Homo sapiens: one gene and its partner. The protein of the gene in region 2 purifies or fractionates together with the protein of the main gene of each other region. This does not show direct contact. Each region holds a gene or a part of one and is shown on either strand. Other genes may lie near its edges. The genes, in order: ANKMY2 and GADL1.

Region 1 (3,834 bases), on a different chromosome or scaffold from region 2:
GAGGTTGTAATGAGCTGAGATTGCGCCACTGCACTCCAGCCTGGGTAACAAAACAAGACCCCCCTCAATAAATAAATAAAAATAATAATAATTATACTCTATAAACTCTAATTACATTATTCTATTATATGGAGCTAGGATAACTTGTTGACCACAATATTGACCTGCTTTTTTTTTTTTTTTTTTTTTTTAAAGAACTCTGGGTTGCTGTTTTAGTTTTTCTGTTTTTTCCCAGGAAGGTAAAAGGTCAGCAACCATTTGTGAGTGCTGGAAATCCCACATAACAGGTACTGCTAGTTGCTTCTCTGATATCAATTCTCCCAGCTTCCTCAGTAACAGAAGTGTAATTTTGTTCAGAGGAGGAGTGTTTAGAAAAGCCAAAAAAAAAAATTTTCCTGGACTCCTGTGTAGCTAAGGAAAGTCATGTGACACAGGCAGAGGGCTTCTGGGAGAGCTTATGTTTTCCAGATATAGACCCCTTTGCTCTTCCTGCCTGCCTGGGATAGGAATGTGAGCTGGAGGAGGAACATCAAATGCCTCGTAACCATGAGATCATAAGTATGCATATGAGAACCTACACAGCTAAGGAATATTGGAAGGGAAAGATGAGAAAGTGTTTGGGTCCCCAAACTATTTTTAAGTCACTATGCCAGACCTAGTCTGCCTACCTTTGGGCATCTATGTATATGTGAATACATAAACCCTCATCTATTTAATTCATGGTTGGTTGGGCTTTGATATGTGCTGCCAAGACACATTTGTAATTGACAAATCATAATTTGCTAACTTTATTCTTCCAAAAGCATAAACACTAAATAGCCAACTATATTAAAAAGTATGAGTAAAGAAACTCTTGAAAATAGGGGGAGCACACATGAACAAATTAATGCATGAGCTTTATGAGATGGTCTTTTCTGCTCAGGTCTTTCTTGTTTATTTTATGGCTCAGACTAGGTGAATTCTTAATGTACAAAGGAGCATCTGGAGCCCACTTGAAGCCCTGATGTTCCACACTGAGAATGACATAACAACCCAGAGAGAAGGCACAGAGAAGGGAACCAGATTTGCCAGAGGGAGGGAGGAAGCCATGGATGGGACTGGTCTTAGGATCAATTTCTTGCCTGATAGACAAAAGCTGATCAAGTTTTTGATTGAAACGTATAAAAGCATGAATGGGTATAGATAGGGTAAACAAAAACCTATTCAAAATAGAAAAGGTGGCTGGGCGCAGTGGGTCATGCCTGTAATCCCAGCACTTTGGGAAGCCGAGGTGGGTAGATCACCTGAGTCAGGAGTTCGAGACCAACCTGGTCAACATGGTGAAATCCCATCTCTACTAAAAATACAAAAATTAGCTGGGCGTGGTGGCGCGCACCTATAGTCCCAGCCACTCAGGAGGCTGAAGCAGGAGAATCGCTTGAACCTGGGAAATGGAGGTTGCAGTGAGCTGAGATTGTGCCACTGCACTCCAGCCTAGGCGACAGAAACAGACTCTGTCGCAAAATAGAAAAGGCCAAATAAATTAAAATATATGACAAATGAATAGTAAGTCATTTAAATAACAGATAAAGTTAACAAAATACACTTATATAGTGGGTAAGTATAAATAGGTTGTAAGTATGGACATTTTCTAATCAGAGGCATTAAGGTGGATTATAGGAAGCTGAGGCATACTTTGAGATTGTTACCAGGAACCACAATGAGCCTTCCCATGGCTTATCCCACTACATCCCCACTGCCTGGACACTATCCCCCTAGGTGATCAATTCATACTTGCATCTAGTGTATGACTTTGTGCTGATAATTCATATAGCTACAAGTGTACATGTGTGTACCTATATTACATAGTGGATGTACTTAAAATGTAAGTTTCTACCCTAACCATCTACATTTCAACATAGCGACGTCCTGTTTATGAAACTATGAACCATAATAAGGTAAGAAGAGGATCGTGAGATGGGAAATAAATAAACAGGAACAGGTTTGGCAGGCAAACCTATCTCCACCTTTGTTCCTAAAAATATTCTGAAATAATAAAAATAAATATTAAAGAGAACTTGCCTTTAACAATACAATAGGTGGGAATTAGGTTTTACTGATAGAGTCAACTTAGGTAAGAGGAGCCTTACAATTTCAACAGGAGCAATGCTTCGAACCAGCTGCTGGAGGAGTGTAGCTTCACAGTAAGGAAATTTTCTGATACTTTCTCTAATGATCTTTTCTTGATACACTGGAAAGCCATCAGAAGCTCGGCCTTTTAACAAGCTGAAAGATATTTTTTAAAGCGTAATTGGAGTTGAATCACTAAGCATTCTCTCCTAGTTGAACCCAACAGTTTTTAGTAGTTTCTTCTGTTACTTATGATTTTCTTTGTCTCTTCAAATCATGATGACGGGCTCAGTTCAAATTGCTGTTCAACCTATATGTTAGGCTAGGCCTTATAAGGTTTTCCAGCCCATTAAATGAATATGCAAAGGTGACTACCACCATAAAACACACTAAACACTGTTATCAGATTAGCTAGTTACTTATTACCATGTCAGTTATTTGTACTAAGAATGAAAACTCTCATAGAGCCACACCCTTCAGACTTAGTTCCCTTTTCTAGGTAAGGATGCAAGAGAATTTGATCTCTGGTGGTCAGAGAAGCAGCATAACACACAGCTCTCCAAGATACAGTAACAGAGACACCCTGGATGCCATTACAAACCTAGGGCTGCGACCTAGGGCATAAAATATTCTCAAATTTGGACTTGGGCCACTTTCTCGCGGTGTGATCTTACACATGTTATTTAACCTCTCCAAACCTCAGATTCCTCATCTGTAAATTGCTGGTAACAACAAAAACATCACAGTAAAGGATACAGAACTGAATAATCACTCAATATAAGTATAATATTATTCTCTGTTTGTCAAAGACTAAATGTGAGTCCAACAACAGCAATTGCTGCCAAAATGTTTAATTTTGAAACACATAATAATGAGGCTTCATATTAAAAAAAATATTCACTTGAGTGTATTTTATAAACGACATAGTAAAAAGAGTACCTTTTGATCAAGGTGTCCAGTTTATTCTCTCCATCTTTTAAGAAGTTAATGCATTTCTGAAAGATACAGCTTATGTAATGCATCTTCATAGCCAATACTTCATTCATGTCTCTTTGCTTCATACATTTCTCACAAATCAAATCCATCACTCTGTAGCATTTATTCAGGGCTGCTTCTTCTGTCAGCAGAGGATTCTCATTTACAAGCATCACGATCTAGAGGAAATCCCAGTGTACTCAGGTATTAAAGGAGACACTTGTTCATGTACAAATTAGGTAGTCCATTTAGTTGATTTCAAAAGATTACCAAAGAAAGCCTTCCTTAGGATCATGAAGTTATTATGTTATTTGTTAGAATGCAAATTACCCAGAACTTATAGAACTAATATAGAAAGACCCTGAAATAGTGGAATCTCTTGAACTCTGTATATCAAAGTTATAATGTGATCTTCCATCTACCTACACCACAGTGCCAGTATGCCATTCAAGAGCACATGATTTTACAGTCTCTGTTAAATTCACTTTTACTAAAGATAAACATGACAAATTTGTACATTTTACATAAAGAATCAAATCATTGAGCAATAACCACTTTTAGTTAACATTACTCAGCTCTAGAATTTCATGGCTAGGAGAACTACAATTCTCATTAATTCTTATTAAGCACAAGAAAATGAGATTTTTTCAGAATGAAGTCTAAAAATGAAATATGCTTTACTTTCCAATTAACTATATTTCTCTATGGAAATTTTCCTGAAGATGCTTCCAATCATCTACAGTAATGAGA
Region 2 (2,816 bases):
GATGTTCTGGATCTAAACTCTCCCAGGATAGGATCTATGCCTCTGGGGGACCAAAGCCACAGCTACATGTCTTTACCCAGTAAGTCTATCTCATCCAGGAGGAAGTCCATGTCCTCCCGGCTCACTTGAGGGCTGATCACCACCTGGCGGAAGAAGTTGACCTTTCCCCGGTGCGGCTGGTAGCCCAGCATCAAGCTTCCCTTCTTCATCATCCTCTCCTTAATGGCTGGGGCCACCTGTGTGGGGAGAAAAGGGGAGAGGGGTGAAAGACCAGAACATCAAGGCATTTCAATAGCATTTTCACCAGCCATTGGACATTTACTGGGCATCCACTGGTTTGGATCCCATTCTCATTCACACAAGGTTGACACTAATAATAATAATAATTTATGGAGGACTCATGAGTACTGATTCAAGTGCTTTAGACATATTAATTAATCTTCACAATAACAGTGAGGAAGATGCTACTAATGTGCCCATTTATGGTCGAGAAAACAGGTACATGGCGAGTAAATCAGTATCTCAAGGTCCCAGGCATTTTCTCCCTAAGCCCATACTCTTAAGTGTAAATCATTATTCAATGCTGCCTCATTAAAAACAAATCAGGTGTCCACAGGGATTACAGTCTCATTCTCAAATTTGTCTTAACTAAAAAACACCCCAGTTCAGGTATCTTGAATAAAGAAAATTAGTCATAGATGGAAAAGAAGGAAACCCTTCCAGTTGTCTACCAAGAAAAAACAAATATGGATATTATGTACAGTTCTATTTTGAAGCCTAAGTTTATTAATTTATTAATAGAACATGTATTTTTCATCCTAGAAAAAAAGAAAGTTAGATATTATTCTCATATATGAAATATAAACACCCTGTCTCTTATTAAGAGATGTAAATGTGGTAATAAAATTAGGAAGCACATATTTTAAAGATCTATAGCTGACATGAGAAGTACAGGCCCTGATAATCCAGATACACAGATTTTTCTAAAAGTTTAATGTTTGAAGAAACTAGTCTAATTTAAGAACCACATGGGAAAATCAGTCCATTTTCTAATCAGTAGTATGGCCACCAAAGAGCTAGGTTGTAAACTTTTAAAATAGTGAAGTTCATTTTTGATACACTGAGTTAAAATATTAAGAATGCATTTTTACTGTCTTGGAAATACAAGCAAAGTTTTTCCACTTGAATTTTATTTTAACTCTGAAAACTTTTTGAGTGTGTCCTATGTGAATATGTGGAAAGGGAATATAATGAGTTTCTATCCTTGCCTTCTCAGGAAGATGAGACTTACTCCTCCAGAAGGGAGGAGTACATATAGAAAGAACACCAGGCAGAGTGTGCTTTTAAACTCCTTAGGTGAGGGGCATGAATCTGGGTTCCCACGAGTCTCCCTCTCTCGTAATGTGATAATCCCACACCAGCCCAGTTTTTGAACATACCCACATTTTGTCAGCAAGTCAAATGACTTCATCTGACACTCAACACAATCTTGATCTGTTCCAAAGCTGATGAAAAAATTGGGTGTTTTAGACCTCTGAAGATATTATGTGTTGAACTTAACCACAGAGCCTTCTCAAAGGATGTTCAAGGTTAATTTTAACTCAACACTTTTTTTTCCACATGTACTAATTTTAGAATATAAGTCTTGCAAAACATGGACTACACAGTGCTTGCAATAACAAAACAAACACCTATTCAGGAAAATCACATTGCCATTCTAGCAAAAAACTGGAAGTTTCTTACATTATCACAAGATATGAAAAGAAAATATATGAGTGTAAAAGAAAAAATGTAGAAAAGGTGATGTTAGAGGTCAAGTTAGTGAAAAAAGCATGGGCCATCAGGTTCTACAAACTTCTAAATATATGTGACACATTTTATTCTGAGCTTTCTAGAGATTAGAAAAATGTAACTAAACAACAGCCTGCATTCACTTGAAAAGAGTGGCAAATGTCCAGTTGATGCTGGAAGCCAGAAGCTAGGAAGTAACTCTCTACTATGCTTATACATATCTGCTTCAAACCCATGAATTTGTATGCATTGGTTGAGTTTTCTTCCAAATCCATGTATGCAAGTAGTAATTCTAAAATCTAGTAAAAAAATATGTAAAACAAAGATAGATGAGTGCCAAAAAAAGTGATTTTTGTAAAAACTAAGTTGAGTCCTTTGGAAAGAAGAGATAAAGGGGGATGGCTAAACATCATTGTGATCACACTAGGCAAGAGAACTGTAAAAGCTTTTGAGAATCCAGACTGATTCTGCACGGAGATCGCTACACAGGTGTCTGAGTACTTACTTCACCTGAAGAAACCCGAGCTGCATAAGACAGATGATTCCTGAAGAATGTAGTTTATGCAAGAACAGTGGAGGGCCCTCTCATCATCAGACCTCTACTTAAGAAAAGTTTCACTTGTTTATAAAAAGCATTTGGAAATCTTCACTAGGTGGAAAAAACCTTTCCATCAAAAGATGGTAACATAAATGTACACTGATATACAAATATAACATTAAAAATTTAAATATAAAGATACAAATATTAAATGGGAAAATGCTCACATTATGTATGTATCACATTATTTTCTAGAATTATTTGCTTTACCTGACTAATCCTCCTCACCTTAGGTAGGAGGGCTTCTCGTGCATATGTGGATATAAATGGGTCTGCGTGCATAAGCATGTGTGTGTGTGTGTGCCTGTGCATATATGCACATGTTAATATACACACTCACATATAATTTAAACCTCTGACCCACCATATTGTACTGCTTTTAAAATCTCTCTGGCCACAGGGCAATGGAGAACCACGCTTTGACTTA

Evidence for each region.
Region 1: the proteins of GADL1 (region 2) and ANKMY2 purify together in Homo sapiens (affinity purification with mass spectrometry; one large-scale study listed by BioGRID and IntAct). This does not show direct contact.

What each region holds. Positions count from the first base shown.
Region 1 is NC_000007.14:16,607,501-16,611,334, forward strand, and holds part of ANKMY2 (ankyrin repeat and MYND domain-containing protein 2), read right to left. Parts: intron 3,264-3,834; coding exon 3,049-3,263; intron 2,266-3,048; coding exon 2,130-2,265; intron 1-2,129. UniProt on the Homo sapiens protein: May be involved in the trafficking of signaling proteins to the cilia.
Region 2 is NC_000003.12:30,728,180-30,730,995, forward strand, and holds part of GADL1 (acidic amino acid decarboxylase GADL1), read right to left. Parts: intron 237-2,816; coding exon 63-236; 3' UTR 1-62. UniProt on the Homo sapiens protein: May catalyze the decarboxylation of L-aspartate, 3-sulfino-L-alanine (cysteine sulfinic acid), and L-cysteate to beta-alanine, hypotaurine and taurine, respectively. Does not exhibit any decarboxylation activity toward glutamate.